Linked DNA regions of Homo sapiens: region 2 is linked to region 1. A link means that fine-mapping ties the variant in region 1 to the expression of a gene that starts in the linked region. Tissue or cell type: whole blood. Region 1 holds a variant in brackets; the other region holds the start of a gene. All regions are shown on one strand. Distances are between the middles of the regions.

Evidence for each region. PIP is the estimated chance that this variant, and not a neighbour inherited with it, causes the effect.
Region 2: FZD6 starts here. The variant in region 1 is fine-mapped to the expression of FZD6 in whole blood (TOPMed, PIP above 0.99).

Annotation. Positions count from the first base shown.
Region 1 is chr8:103,338,564-103,346,750 of GRCh38, forward strand. No RefSeq gene overlaps it. Among named protein-coding and RNA genes, the nearest start is that of CTHRC1, 29 kb to the right of the region's middle. The variant G/A (reference allele first, on the strand shown) is at 3,364.
Region 2 is chr8:103,295,239-103,303,425 of GRCh38, forward strand. It overlaps FZD6 (frizzled class receptor 6), which reads left to right and starts at 3,660. Exons shown (of 7, transcript NM_003506.4): 1 at 3,660-3,757; 2 at 4,718-5,046. The coding sequence starts at 4,870. It overlaps LOC105369147 (a long non-coding RNA gene), which reads right to left and starts at 3,580. Exons shown (of 2, transcript NR_148216.1): 1 at 3,111-3,580. RefSeq lists enhancers at 3,236-3,736, 3,737-4,237, 4,091-4,140 and silencers at 3,341-3,390, 3,401-3,570, 3,691-3,940, 3,803-4,097.

The DNA.
Region 1 (8,187 bases):
ACAAGAAAAACCTGCCCCCATGATTCAGTTACCTCCCAGTGTGTCCCTCCCATGACATGTAGGGATTATTACAATTCAAGGTGAGATTTGGGTGGGGACATAGAGCCAAACCATATCAATTCCCAAAATATTTTTAAGCACAAAAAAACTTGCAAAATTACACTTACACAATAATACCATGTATATAAACTACATCCACCCCACAAAACCACACTAATATTTTCTATTATTACTTATAAATGTATCTACATGCATAATGATACCATGTGTGTTAACAACCTTCACCCCATAGAATAATACTATATGTTTTCTATGGTTACATGTATATAAATGCATAGGGGAAGTCCAGGAAAATATAGAAACATGGGTTATCTCTGTGGAGGGGGTCAGTATTGTAAGTGATGAACAAAGCAGACTTTAGCCTGATCTGTAATGTTTACATTTTTATAAGGAGACTCTATTAATATATCATATGTCATCATTAAGAATCTGCTTATTTATTTATTTACTTATTTATTTTGAAACAGAGTCTTGCTTTGTCACCTAGGCTGGAGTGCAGTGGCGCAACATTTTCTCAGTGCAACATCCACCTCCTGGGTTCAACTGATTCTCCTGCCTCAGCCTCCTGAGTAGCTGTGATTACAGGTGCCTGCCACCACACCCAGCTAATTTTTGTATTTTTAATAGAGACAGGTGTTCACCATGTTGGCCAGGCTGGTCTTGAATTCCTGACGTCAAGTGATCCACCTGCCTTGGCCTCTCAAAATGCTGGGATTACAGGCATGAGCCACCACACACAGCCAAGAATCTGCTTTTTTAAAAAGAAAATCCACTAAGCACAAATCTAGCTAATTCGTGGATTCAGCCACATCTACCTGAGTCTGAGCCTGAAGCAGCCATTATTTCTGGGGATGTGGGCCACACACCTGCAGGCCAGGAAGGGGCAGCCCACACCGCTGAGGTCGGGAAAAGCCACCGGTGCATCCAGTTCAAACTCCCCTTGGCTCCTCAATCCTGCGCTTCTCCTTTCTCTGGAACCATATTCTCTTTAGTTGGCAATCACCACATGTTTATTGGGAACCTCTGTGCCTGCTTCTTTCTCTTCAGTCCCTTCTCCAGATTTGACTCCCACCCCCACAAATAAAGCCCAGACCTGCTGATTTGTTCCCGCACAGGGAAGACAGAGGAGCCTCCCAGGGTGAGACATCAGGGACACAGGTGAAGGAGAGGAAGCTGAGGTAGGCTGCGTTCAGTGGAACACCCACCAGGGCCGATTCCTCCTGTCCACACCCTAGTGCACACACCACCAGTACCTCAAGTGCCCCCAGCAGTGGGCAACACATCACCACAATTTACTTCTATATGCCTCAACCTCAAGTTGAGAAACTGCTCAAAAGTGAGATCTGAGGTTAGGGAGAATCTAAGGCATTCGTGGCTTTCTGCAGAAGATAAACCCCCGTTTTTCTCTGGAAACTCCAGCAATATATTCACCCATGTCCCTTAGAGCCATGCAGTTGACCCAGGCCCTTGAGTTCTGACAGAGGCACAGGAGCCCATGGAGCTGAGAAAGTTGTCTGTTTATAGCTCGCTTTGTCCTAGTAGCCATGGCTAAGTGTTCATGGGGACCATCGAATTTTGATCAGCATTTCCCAAATTGATGGATAGTTCCTACATAGGCTGAACTGTGAAGGGCCTAAGTTTCTTGTCTGTACTTGCCTACTGCCTAAGCTGCTAAGAGATTAGGTTTTGATTTTAGAATTTAACCTAGTCCTTTCCCTCTAGACCAGATGAGTCAATTTTTCCTCTTAATATGTTTGCCAATAGCAAAAATAACTTTCCTAACCATCTGACACTTAAACCAAAGATTCATTATTTTTAACCAAGAGGACAAAATGTTCCAATAAGAATACTTAATACATCAGTGAAAGGTAAGCCCCAGCTGTGGCCCAGGAGACCACTAGAGTCTCCCAAAGATATTCTTCTATCACTGCTAGATCTGCCATTCAACCTCTAGAATATAGCCAAGAAGAAAAAGTATATGATATTTTGGCAAGATAACCTGCACACTATAGACCCTGAACTCAGTGACTCTCAACAGCATTTTTCTGTCTTTAAAATTTTTGTTTTGTTTTGTTTTGAGACAAAGTCTTGCTCTGTCACCCTGGCTGGAGTGCAGTGATGTGATCTCGTCTACTGCAACTTCTGCCTCCCAGGTTCAAGTGATTCTCCTGCCTCAGCCTCCCAAGTAGCTGGGACTACAGGCACGTGCCACTATGCCCAGCTAATTTTTGTATTTTTAGTAGAGACACGGTTTCACCATGTTGGTTGGCCAGGATGATCCACCCACCTCAGCCTCCCAAAGTGCCGGGATTACAGACATGATCCACTACACCCGGCCAAAAATTTTTTTAATTTTTTAATTGTTTAATTGACACATAATAATTGTACCTATTTGTGGGATACACAACAACGTTTTGATATATGTAATGTATAGTGATTACATCAAGGTTTGGGTTGATTTTATGTTTTTCAGGACTAGAGTCTGGTATTCAGACTGGGATGCATGTTACAGTTCCTCCTCCTCATTTTCTGGGAGTGGGAGGAGGTGATAAAGTCCACTGTCATCTGTACTTCAAGCTCTAGACCAGGTCCTCACGGCACGGAACTTGAGATATACCAAGGAGTTAAGATTATGTCTCATACATAGAACAGAGACCCATGGGAATAATAGAACCTTATGATTTTTAAAATATTTTACTAAGACCCTTCTTCCATATTTCTCTGGATTGGGACACAGGACCATTTACTGGTTATAAAGCCCTGTTTACTAAGGCAAACAAAAAGGTGTAATTGGCACCCTAGGTTTTAAAATTTATAAATATCAAGTGCATGTCTGTGTGTGTGTGTATCTGTGTATCTGTGTGTGTGTGTGTGTGTGTGAAGCTTTTGGAACACCACTTAAGAATTCCTAAGAAAACCACACGTCAAGCCTCTATCACACACACTCAGGTAAATGGGTCTGTTCTGAAGACCAAATTTTGCCTTGGGTGATGTGTTCTAAGATCTAATCTTGGGAGGATCAGGAGGCCAGGAACACAAGCAAGCCCATTTGACTCTCACAATAAGCCACATTCTCCAGTGGCAGGTTTAACATCAACATACATTCTCAAAAATCAGGGGGAGGTATAACTAAATGAGCACTCACTCAGACAAACTACAGAGGTATTTGGTAAATCTATTTGTAAATAAAGTGAAAAAGAAGAGGCTCTGCTTTCTTCTTAGCCCTGTGTTGATAATTAGTTAGAGAAAAGATTGAAAGAGGTCGTATGCACAATCCTGTGTCAAAATAAGAATTCCTGTTAC[G/A]CTGGAACAATACTCTGGCTTCTCACTTACATGAACTCTTACACAATAGTTGGTTCAGAAGCAATTCAACTCATCAAAAAATGAATAGCAATTTTAAAGTGGAACTGAGGACCTATACAATAAAGCTACAAGAAAAAGAAAAGAAGAGAAACAAGACAAACAAATGACACAGAATCCCTCCCAGAAAATATTGCTATAGGGTAGATAACATGTTTGACAAAACGTATCATTTTTACAAGTTTTAGAAATCAGTGAAACAATCAACACTGTAAAAGAAATACACAATATAAGAGCTTGGAGATGACATGGGGAAAAGATACAAGGAGGCAAAACATGAATTACTGCCAAAACTCTGGAAAGAAATAGAAAAGAATTGGAAGCAGCACAGAAAATACACATTTCCTATAACATGATAATGGACATAGAGAAGAGGAATGAAAATAGTAAAATAAATAAAAATGACTAAGAGTTAAATAAATTGAAAGAGAAAATGGTAGTTACAGAAGACAAAGAAAATTAATATTTATATAACTAGTGACCCCGAAGAAGATAACCAAAATAACAGAACATATAATATCTAACAAGAGGCCAAGCGTGGTGGCTCATGCCTGTAATCCAGCACTTTGGGAGGCCCAGGCAGGCAGATCACTTGAGGCCAGGAGTTTGAGACCACTCTAGCCAACATGGCAAAACTCCATCTCTACTAAAAACACAAAAATCAGCTGGGTGTGGTGGCGCATGCCTGTAGTCCTAGCTACTTGGGAGGCTGAGGCAGGAGAATCACTTGAACCTGGGAGGCGGAAGTTGCAGTGAGCTGAGATCGCACCACTGCACTCCTTGGAAAACTGTGGCAACCCAACAAAGACAGGCCCACCAAGACCTTAATCATTTAGGAATGACAGTTTGTGTCTTCACTTGGAAAAAAGCCTCCAACCAAATGAAAGGCTGGCGGATGAAGAGGGAAACATGGGGTGGGTGAGGGAAGAGGCAGCTATAGGATATCAGCTTAGGCCTCAGAATTTTCCCCCTTTCTGACACTACCTAGATGAAAGCATTGGTTTGTCGCTGATTTAAGTTTTATTTCATGAGCATAATCATTACCCTTCAGTAGTCATGGTGATATTTAAAGGATTTTGTTACTTTTATCCAAAAGAAAAATAAATATTTTAAAGTTTTTTGTTTTGTTTTGTTTTTTGAGTCTCACTCTGTTGCCCAGGCTGCAGTTCAGTGGCACAATCTCGGCTCACTGCAGCTTCCACCTCCCGGGTTCAAGCGATTGTCCTGCCTCAGACTCCTGAGGAGCTGAGATTACAGGCACAGGCCACCACGCCTGGCTAATTTTGTATTTTTAGTAGAGACAAGGTTTTGCCATGTTGGCCAGGATGGTCTTGAACTCCTGGCCTCAAGTGATCCCCCTGCCTCAGCCTCCCAAATGCTGGGATTACAGGCATGAGCCACCACACCCAGCTTAAAGTATTTTTATATCAAATACTTCTTGCTGTGCAGCTCCCAACACATTGGATCAATGAAGGGCATTCATTCCCTCAGGAGAACATCAGATACAGCCAAGAACACAGGGGTCAGGGGATGCGAGTGACTAAATGTGTCCTGGCCCCATACAGCCAGATTGGTTGCAAAGAGGAAAGGTGCCAGGGTGGGTGTGGGATTCCTGAGACCTAAACTGGATCCTGGCTTTCAGACTGGAAAGATCCCAAGGCATCAGACTCTCCAAAAAGAGAACTGCTTGGGCAGGAAGGAGCTCTAAGGGCTGAATGTGGGACGAGGCAGGGAGAGGACCAGAGGCGGCCACCTCTCCAGAGTGCCCCTTGACTCCCTGCATCATTGATGGACTCTAGAAACAGCCAAGTGATCCCAGAAATAATCACAAATTATGGTATCTGTCAGGCACCATCTCAGGGATAAGGATCTAATGGAAAACACTAAAGGTCCTTGCTCTCATAAAACTTACATTCCAGGAGGTATCAGGCAATAAGCAAGTTACTGAATAAACAAACAAGGTCAATTCAGATTGGGAAGGTATTAAATAATGGAATATTACTCAATGATATTAATTGAAGCATCATTTATAACAGAAGCTAAAGTGTCTACAAATATGCAACTGGTTATATAATTTATTCCATTCCATGGAATACTGTGAAAATACTAAATTAATTAAAAGACAAGGAAGAACTGTAAGTGTTCATAGGGAAAGATGTCCAGGATTCACTGTTAGTGAAAAAAGCAGGTTATAGCATAATATGTATATGATAATCCTATTTGGTTTATATTCTAATGCAGTTGTATATGTATAATGACTAGAAATATATGTACCAAACTACAGACAATGGTTATTTTAGAGGAGTGAGATTATGTTGGGGGTCAATAGCAGGGAAAACTTTTACTTTCTACATTATGCACTTCTACATTGTTTGATTTCAAAATAAGCATATACTATTCCCCACCTACCTCCAAAATAGGGGTGGAGGAAGACAGTGGTAGCTCGAAGTGGCAAGAAAGAACAGCCTGTTTTGCAAACTTCTATTATTTATTTAATTTGACGCTTCAGGTAAATTGAGGCATATTGCATTTCAAGCTATATATCAAGATATAAATGAAAATAAGCACCTTTATGAATTTCATTATCTTAGACACTGTTCTAGAAGTTTCCAAATTATTTCTTACCAGATAAACTTTTTTTTCAATTTTGTAAAAGATAAAATATGCTTGTTTCTGGAATACAACATGTAAAATTTCATTGATTCTATATATGATATTAATGTATAAAATGCAAAGTTGGTTTTTACCTTCTACTGTAACTTGGTTTAGAACTTAACTTTGATGAGTGTCCTGTGTCTCTGGATAGAGATCTTAGAAATATTTGATGTGTTTTAGTCCTATACAGAATTCTAAGTTAAATATTTCAAGATGGCTTTGGTCAGCCAAGCCTGACTGCTGGTATGCAGACATGAGCAAATCACTAAGAAAAATAATTAAAACCCTTACTTTGGATAGGCAACTTGGAAACCAGCATATCTGTTGAATGTATTAACAATGACTCATAACCACATGAGTTAAATATACTGAGGAATTAAGTGTTTAGCTCATAGTTCTGGGTGTCCTGAGGCCTGGGATTACTATAACTCCAACAGAAAATAGTGATTGGATTAGATACTGGACTCAACTCCTAACTTCAAGGCCAAGAGTTTGCTAATAATGTACCCTGTAGGACTTAGACAGGAGGGGAACCTCCCTGCCTCATTCTGCCTTCTGTTTTCCAGGACTCTGTCAGGCAAGAGGGGGAAAATATCTTTGCAGCAGGCTGTCGTGTGATTTGGATTATTGCTTCAGATGCGAAGTCCAAAAATCTCAGAACAAAAGGAGTTCTGGTGACAAGTTGTAAGGAGAAAGAAAGTTGTAGGTGACAAGTTGTAAGGAGAAAGTTGTACTTCCTCACCGTCTTAGGGGATCCCCAGGAGCCCTCAGTACAATGCAACTTGTATCTGGGCCTTCTCCAGCAGTGGAAGCAGCAGACAGGTGTCTGCTAGCAATCTGTCATCTTCTCTTTCTGCATGCTCCTGACCTTGGGAGTCACAGCTCTGCAATGGGAACACTCCAGAGCACTGGGCCTCCAGGGACAAACTACTCTCTGGAAAGGAGCTGATGTGCTTGCTCACCTTAAACTGTAAATGCTGTTGGGGTGTAATCTTCCCAGATACATGGAAAAAAACCCATAGAATTTTGCTAAGTTAGAAAAAGAAAAAACTACTAATACATGCAACAATGGATGAATCTCAAAAATATTACGCCAAGCAAAGGAAACCAGACACAATGTGCACACAAAAAGCACATCATCCAGAAGTGGGCGAGTGACAGCTTAGCCTGGGAAGGATCATATGGTTGTATAGGCATGTCTATCATCTCTCCATAAAATGTGTGGGCCTATGTCATCTATTTGGGCTTCACCAAAAGTTCTGAGGAAAAAGGAACAGTCATCTTTAACATATCTGTGTCCTCAACCAAAAGCTGTCAATTGCCAACTCAATATCCATTCCCCCATTTTTTTTCATTGCAAAACTCCAATTTCTTCAAGTAGGAATTCTATTCTACATGGGGAAATTAGTCCCAGGAGCCCAGGAGACTTGATTTGTCTAAGTCTATTGTGGTTATCTCATTCACGGGATTAAGAATTATTTTAGGGCTGAGTACGTGGCCTCCTTCTAGCCAATGAAATGTGTATAGAGCAGGGGGCTCCTGAGACAGATTCTCTTCCTCAAGAAAGAAATAATGCAAGAGATGGTCCTCTTATTCCTCTAGACATTGTTGCATCCATCAGGGACACCTGAGTCAGCTGTCTCCCAGGGAGGATGATAGTGTGAGGACAAAGCCAGAATCTTAAAGTGGCAGAACCTAAAGATGGAAAAAAACTTGAATCCTTGACGATGCGGTTGAGCTCCGAGTTAATTCAACCCAGAGCAGCCCTCCTTATGAACTTCTTGTTAAAATAGAAAATAAATTTCCTTATCGTTTAAGTCATACTGAGTTGGAGTTTATATTACACGCTGCTGACAGCACCTTAACTGATTTAAAAATCAAATTTTTGGGGGGTGATGCATATTTGCCAATATAGTGTCTATCACATAAAAGACACTCAGTCAATGTTTTTTGAAATATTATAAGAAATGTATATGGCTTGGCACGTGGCTCATGCTTGTAATCCCAGCACTTTGGGAGGCCAAAGCAGGCAGATGACTTGAGGTCAGGTGCTCAAGACCAGCCTGGCCAACACAGTGAAACCCCATCTCTACTAAAAATACAAAAATTAGC
Region 2 (8,187 bases), 43 kb before region 1:
CCAATACGGTGAAACCCCGTCTCTACTAAAAATACAAAAATTAGCTGGGCATGGTGGTGTGCACCTATAATCCCAGCTACTCGGGAGGGTGAGGTGGGAGAACCATTTGAACCCAGGAGGCGGAGGTTGCAGTGAGCCAAGATCACGCCACTGCACTCCAGCCTGGCAACAGAGTGAGACACACACACACACAAACACACACACACACACACACACACACACACACACAAAGGGGGAGGGGGCCTAGTCTTTGGAGGGCACACTCACACTTTTGTAAGTTTTACCTCCAGGAGTTCTTCCAGGTTCTCTCAGTGAAAATCAAAGAAAAATCACCTCCTACATCCAACAGGGAGAGGTGAAAAGAACCATTTTGAAATATGTCAAAATATTCTGTTCTTTTTAACAAGGCCTGCCCTCAAGAGAAACTACCAGAGCCTAACCTATTACAGTTTTAGCAGAGCCTAACCAAGCTGATAGATGGGAAATATCCAACCCCAGCCCCCTCTAGACATCCTGTCCCACCCAAGAAGGGGGATAAAAACTAAGAAGCACTTGTGAAGTTTCCAGCCTAGGGACACAAGCTCACTAAGACTGAAATCTAATCATAGGTCTATAGAATGTTTCCCCTCCTCCCACATCTTAACACCGCATCACTGAAGCCCATTTACTCCAGTGCCTTTCACCCAGTGCATCATGTCCAGCTTTCAACTAAAAATTACAAGGCACACTACAGAGCAAAAAACACAGTTTGAAGAGGCAAAGCAATCATCAGAACTAGACTCACATACGGCAGAGATGTTGGAATTATCAGACCAGGAACTTCAAATAACTGTGATTAATATACTAAGGGTTGTAAAGGTAAACGTAGACAACTTGAAAGAACAGACGGTTAATGTAAGCAGAAATGAAAATTTTAAGGAAGAATAAGAATTGCTAGAGATATAAAATTCTATAACAGAAATGAAGCATGCCTTTGATGGATTCATTAATAGACTGGACATGGTTGAGAAAAGAATCTCTGAGTTTGAGGATATGTCAATGGAAACTTCCAAAATTGAAAAATAAAGAGAAAAAGGACTTAAAAAAAAGAAACAATATCCAAGAACTGTGAAACAACTACAAAAGTATAACATATGTGTAACAGGAATACCAGGAGAAGAATTAGAGAAAGGAACAGAAGAAATATTTGAAGCAATAGTGACTGAAAATTTCCCCAAATTAATGTCAGTCACCAACAATGTTAGACCAACTCTCTAAAATCTCTTCCAGAAGATAGAAGCAGGGGGAATACTTCCTAGCAGCATTGCCCTAATACCAAAACCAGACAAAAACATTACTAGCAAAGAAAACTATAAACCAATATATCTCTTGAACAAAGATGTAAAAATCCTCAACAAAATATTAGCTAGTAGAATCCAGCAATGCATAAAAAGAATTGTACAGCATAACCAAGATTTATCCCAGGTATGCAAGGCTGGTCCAATATTTGAAAATTCATTCATGTAATCTACCATACCAATAGACTAAAGAAGAAAAATCACATGACCACATCAATAGATGCAGAAAATGCATTTGACAAAATCCAGCACATTTTCATCATAAAAACTTTCAGCAAACTAGGGACAGAGGGGGAACTTTCTCACTTGCTAAAGAACATCTACAAAAACCCTAAGGTAACAATATACTTAATGATGAGGAGCTTACCTATAGAGGAACAAAAATAAAGAATGACATCCAACTTCTCAGAAACCACGTAGACAAGAAGAGAGGTGGAGTAAAAGTGTTCAGAGAAAAAAACTACCAACCTATAATTCTGTACCTTGCAAAATTAGCCTTTAAAAGTAAAAGTCTGTTTCTTCTACTTTTGGTCACCACTGTCCCCTAGCATCAGCCCAGAGGAACAATGCAAAGAGAAAGAGAAGGAAAATGAGGAAAACCGTCAGATAGTTCCATATTTACAGATGAAGAAACTAAAGAGGATCTGAATAATTTGCTCAAGTTCACACAGCAAGTAAATGCTGGAGCTAGGTTTTGAACCCAGGGATTTTGAACTCCAAAGTTTGTGTTCTTAATCTCGTACCATTGGGATGAAATTGTACAGTGAAAGACAAGCGATGATATAGATGATTGCCTAAGTATTCCAAATCCATCCTGACAAAAAAAAAATCATTCTAGTTCATCACTGCTCACTATATAATTAAATACAATGAAAAATAAAACAGGCTTTATTTACTTCTGTATAAATCAACTTACTACAATTTTTCCTTCCAAATAATGGAACAAGTATTCACTTGAATTTCAAAACTATCGTTTTCAAATGATACTTTAAAAGTATCGTTTTCAAACGATATTTTAAAAAGTATCGTTTTTAAATGATACTTTTAGTGATACTTCACTGCCTGGTAGTCACTAGAGCCTGATCACAAAAAGATCTCATTAAGTTCGTAGAAACTGGAGAGAAATAGTCTTCCAATGTAGAAAATTAGAAATTTAGGGGAAAATATTCTTCCTACATAGAAATTTATTCTGCAATACATCAACTATCCAGCTCTTAATGATGTTAATATTTCTTCATCACTACCTGTCTCCCAACATCAGTAAGCTTTTGATAAAACTGGGGAGGAATTCCCCACTCCAAATTCGTCTTTCCCCACAGATTCCAAAACTCTTACTCTGGTTGTTCAGGGTTGTCCTTCTAGGTATGGAAATATGACATTCCTTTTCTGCAACAGGATGATTTATCTGACAAGAATAGCCTCCATCTACAAGTTACTTTGCATTTTTCAAAGTACTTCTACAAGTTCATTTGCTTCTCATACTATTCTGCCTGTTTCATAGGAGGGCCTTACAGGTTAGGTGTAAACACTTGTAACGAACTTGGCACTATTTGACTTACAGCCAGTGCTCAATTAACGTTAACCATCATTACAACTATTGTCATTCCTATATTGTGAGGAAACTATGCCCCTTAAAGATTAGGGTAATTTATCTAATATCTATGACAGAGTTGGTACCCCAAACTAGGTTGATTTCTACAGCAGTTCAACTTCCTATTAGGGTTTGTATCAATAAAACTGTGGGACCCGCCAGGGCTGGAATCCCACTGCTACCTGAGCATCCAGTTGGTGACCAGGCTCCCCGAATTAATAAAAGTATTTGTTGTTGTTTTTATAGCAGTTGTCCAGGAAGTATCTCCTTTCGAACTCAAGTCACTTGGGCAATTGGCTTTACAAAGCAAATTGGCTCCGTTTAAGGATTCTTGACTCCTGAAATCCGCAAGGAAGTGGGTTCTTTTAGAGCCAGCGCCAAGAGCTTCAAAAAATCCTTCTAAGGTGAACCCCTCCGGACCCGGATAGCGAGATGGGGCTCAGCCTTGCGCCTCGGGGGTCGTAACAGACGGCAAGGTGGAGGTGGCTTCCCGGCCCCGCAGCCGGACCTCGGCACCCCGAGCCCGTTCACCGGGGCCGGGTCCTGGCGGGCCGCGGAGTGAGGCCGGGCGGCGCAGCGCAGGCGGTGCCCGGGCGCAGGGCCAGTCCCGCCGCCGCCGCCGCCGCCGCCGCCGCCGCCGCCGCGAGCCCGGACCTGCCCGCCCGACCTGGCGGCGCAGTCTCGCGGGATCGCTCAGCTCTCGCTCCCCGTGCGGCTCTCGAGGCAGCTCCAGTCCCGGACGCAACCCCGGAGCCGTCTCAGGTCCCTGGGGGGAACGGTGGGTTAGACGGGGACGGGAAGGGACAGCGGCCTTCGACCGCCCCCCGAGGTGAGGCTTCCACGGCTGGGACTGGGCAGGGGCCGGGCGGGTGCCGGGGGAAGCGGGGAGGGCCTCGAGGGGCGAGGGGCCGCGGCTGGGATGAGGCGCGCCGGGAGCCGCAGGTGCTGGGGAGGCAACGGCGGGACGGCCCGCACCTGAGTTTCCTCGGAAGCGGGAACCGGCTCTGAAAGGCGATGCCGGGGCCCCGCGGCGCCGCGCAGGCCAGGAACGCTGCTGTCTGGCTCTAGGCCTGGGGCAGGTTCCCGGGTGTGGGGCGCTGGCGGACCGGGCATCAGTGTGTGTTGGGGCGCGGGTAATTCGTAATCCGGGGCCTACAGCCTTCCTCCCGCAAGGGGACTGCCTTCGCCCTTCCCCCGGGACAGATTTGCGCACTTTCCTTTCGACGGCAGCACTACACCCTCCTAGCCAGTGAAAACTGCAATGTTGCTCCTCCACTGGAGGAATCCTAAAAGTCTCCCTCTAGTTGGCCTTACGAAAATCGAGAAAACTACATACCCAGAAGACTGCCACAAAAACTGACTCTTCAGAGTCTTTTACAAGTTTAAGAACTCTTTGGGTCTTAAGGAATTTCCCAGGGCCTTAGTTTTCTTGTACTTAATAAGCTTTCCAACAGGGGCCCTTAGATTGTATGCTTATATTAATCCTTTATAATTTACTCCGAATCACCAGCTTTCCTTTTTTCCTCCATCTTACTCTTGCCATTCCCTCTTTTTAACCCTGTCTTCCATACAGCACCAACCTCCTAGCATCGGTTTCCTAGAGGTGCAGCTTCCTTAGCAAATGATATATTCCATGCTAAGGCAGGTGGAAGAGTATCTCGTTAGGACAGAATTTTCCGTTGTTTTTCCAGTGTTTGTTACCTGGGGTGAAAATCTTAACTCTGCACTTTGACTCCACATTTGAGTTTATGACAAATGTTGCTGATACACCCTCCTTTTGTTTTTACAGTAATTGACCCAGGACTCATTTTCAGGAAAGCCTGAAAATGAGTAAAATAGTGAAATGAGGAATTTGAACATTTTATCTTTGGATGGGGATCTTCTGAGGATGCAAAGAGTGATTCATCCAAGCCATGTGGTAAAATCAGGAATTTGAAGAAAATGGAAATGTTTACATTTTTGTTGACGTGTATTTTTCTACCCCTCCTAAGAGGGCACAGTCTCTTCACCTGTGAACCAATTACTGTTCCCAGATGTATGAAAATGGCCTACAACATGACGTTTTTCCCTAATCTGATGGGTCATTATGACCAGAGTATTGCCGCGGTGGAAATGGAGGTGAGTAGTGCTTCATACGTTTATTGAATAGTAGTTTATGCTCTGTTCTAGAATAAACTAGTAAAAATAAGTCTATTTTTAAACAGAGCCGATTTCTTCAAGTTGTGTACAAGTTGTGTTTTGAAAAGTCCTTTTGAAAATTAAATCCCTCTACTGACTTATGTTTTGTGTACCTTTGCGGCCCTGTTTAGTAGATTCGTTTGAATAGGGTTCATTTTATATAATGAAGTATGGTTACACATGATTTCTAAATACCTTGTACCTAGAAAATATTTTGCTTTCCTGAATCAAGTATGATAGTTCTTCTAGAAATGCGAATTCTGAATATTTTTCTACTTCACTGAACATGTAATATTTATTGCCTGGACTAAAACTGAAGAAATTTACAAGTTTTTATAAGTAGTTGTAATATTCACTTGGTACAGTTTTTCTGAAATAAATAAATTATCAGAATATTTTGTTGCTGTAGACTGTATTTTAAGGCTATCACAAAGTCACTAAAAAGTGACTTTGTTTTCTAAGCATAGCACTTATATGTTCTTTATAAGATACTTGTTAAAAGAAACCACTTGGGAGGAGTACAGTGACACTAAAGATTGCCTTAGGTGCCTTAGTTACCTGTCTCTGGTTTAGAGATATGCAAATTACTAGGGAGTGTGAGAAGAAAGCTACCTGTACAGACAGGAACCTGCCTTCCCATACAGATTTGTTAGGTTGTTAAGTCTCCTGAAGGAAACTAGACACATGCATTGTTTTTGTAGTTTTTCTCCAGAAAAACAGAATAGTAAAGGCTTTTTTCCCTCAGATTGTTGCTAAGAGAGGAAATCCCTACAAATTTAATATATATACTATTTTTAAAATTGATTAGATTTGATTTTGCAGCTTTGAAAGTTTTCTATTGTTGTTCAGTTGAATAGTTGTCTGACTGCCTCATTGTGGACTCATGTCTGGAATAGGAAAGCTTATAAATACTAAGTAGATGTTATTTAAAAGGATAGTACAGATTATATTATTGTTATCTTTCAGTGGTTTTTTTCAAACTGATGCTAGATGTCCTTTTGAACTGAACAAATGATGCACTGAGACTTTCATGAATCAGAACCATTTTGATGGTTCAATCTGATTCAATATGAAGTATATAGTGAGAACACTGTGAAGCAATAATTACATCATTCATTCACTTTTTTGCTGATGATAATATGTTTTGTAGTGTTCATGTTTTAATAGTGTTCCTAAATTTTTTAAATCTAATTTCCTTTGTATGTGGTAACTACATACATTTTAAGGTTTTTGTTTTTTCTTTTAGAGATGGGGTCTTACTATGTTGCCCAGGCTGGTCTCAAACTCCTAGGCTCAAGTGATCCGTCCTGCCTCAGCATCCCAAAGTGCTAGGATTACAGGCGCGAGCTACTGCACCTGGCTGACCATTTTAAGTTTGAATGCTAACAGTGACCTTATAAATTCATATCACCTAGACTCAAGAGAGATGCATCCCTGCTATTAAATGCCTGTAATTATAAGATGGTAGCAACTAGCTTTGTTCTGCACGTCTTTTTAAAACCAAATTTTTTTTACTTTCAAAAAAATTACTTTTTAATTTACCTAGCTTCTTTCCCAAGTAGTTTTGTGCCTGGATATTATCAAGAAGGCTTTTTGTTCTTACCTCTTTTATATGATTGCTAATACTACCAATCTCTTCATTATATAATTTTCCACTTATAACTAACCTTTCTCATAGCCTTTACTAATGAAGTTTTTTTTTTTGCTATAAATCATACTTCAGTAAATTTAAGGATACAAAAGAAGAGAGCCATCAAGCAGTCACAATACCAGCATTAACCTAAGTCTATAGAAGAAAGGAAAGAGAAATGAAAAGGCAAAAATAATGTCACCCTGGCTCAGACTTTTAATCCCTATATGTAATTTCTCAGTGTATACTATTGTGTTTTTCCTACTGCCCCTTTCCTATTTATCCATATACAGTAGTATTCTCTTTTAGTTCCTGTATTTGAATGTCCAAAATCCTATAAGTTGAGAGTTGTAAGTGACCCTAAAGATCATATAGAGCTTCTTAACCTTTTTTATGACATTAACCCCTTCTCAAGATAAGAGAAGTTTTAATATTTAAATAAATAAAATGTGTAGGATTACAAAGAAAACAAATTATATTGAAATATAGCTCAGGTAAAGAACCCCCGAACCCTTCATTATACAGATGAAGAAACTGAAACCCAGAAAAGCTGCGATTTGTCCCTTTGAGCACTCTAATCTGATAGTCTTCTCTGTCTACATGGACCATAATGTCATCTTTAACTGGTTTTTTTTTAGGCCCTTGTCCTGATTGGATAAACAAGATAATATTTCTTATGATTTAGAATGCAATGTGTAAATTTCAGACTTTGCTACTTATTTGCAAACTTCATTTAGATAAAAATTAAACTGGGTGATTGTTTTACCTCTGTTTAGCTCTGTCTCTCTTTTTCCTTCTTACAAGTGCCTTGAATACAAAGTCTTGTTAGACCAAAAATAAAATCTCTGTGGCGCACACCTGTAGTCCCATCTACTCTGGAGGCTGAGGTGGGAGGATCACTTAAGCCCAAGAGTTGGAGGCTGCAGTGAGCTATGATCGTTCCACTGCACTCCAGTCTGGGCAACAGAGTGAGACTTCAACTCAACAAAACAAAATGAAAACAACAAAAACAAAGCAAAAGTTAACTCCCTAATCTTCAGTCTCTCTAGTGGTGCCACAATGATTTTATTATAATTCAAATTTGTGCAGTCCACTTTAGGGTTAAAATCCTTCATCATTTTCCCTAAAGCTGGGGAAAAAAAGACCTGGTTCTAGAGCACTCCAGGCCCTTCATGTGGGACCCTGGCTGCTTGTCCAGTCTCTCATCTTGTACCTTCCCACATTGCACACTCTGCTTCAGCCAACTGACCTATTTGGAGAATTCAAATCCATATTACTGTCCATCACCTCTGTATCTTTACACACACTCTATCCTCTGGTGAGCCGTCTGTCTACCTACCTTTCTTCACCTGCTCAATTCCTTCAGTTCTCAGTTAAAGCAATAACTGTTTTTAGCGAACCCTTCTTTCACCTTTCTCCTGAGCAAATTTAATCACCCCACTCTACACCCT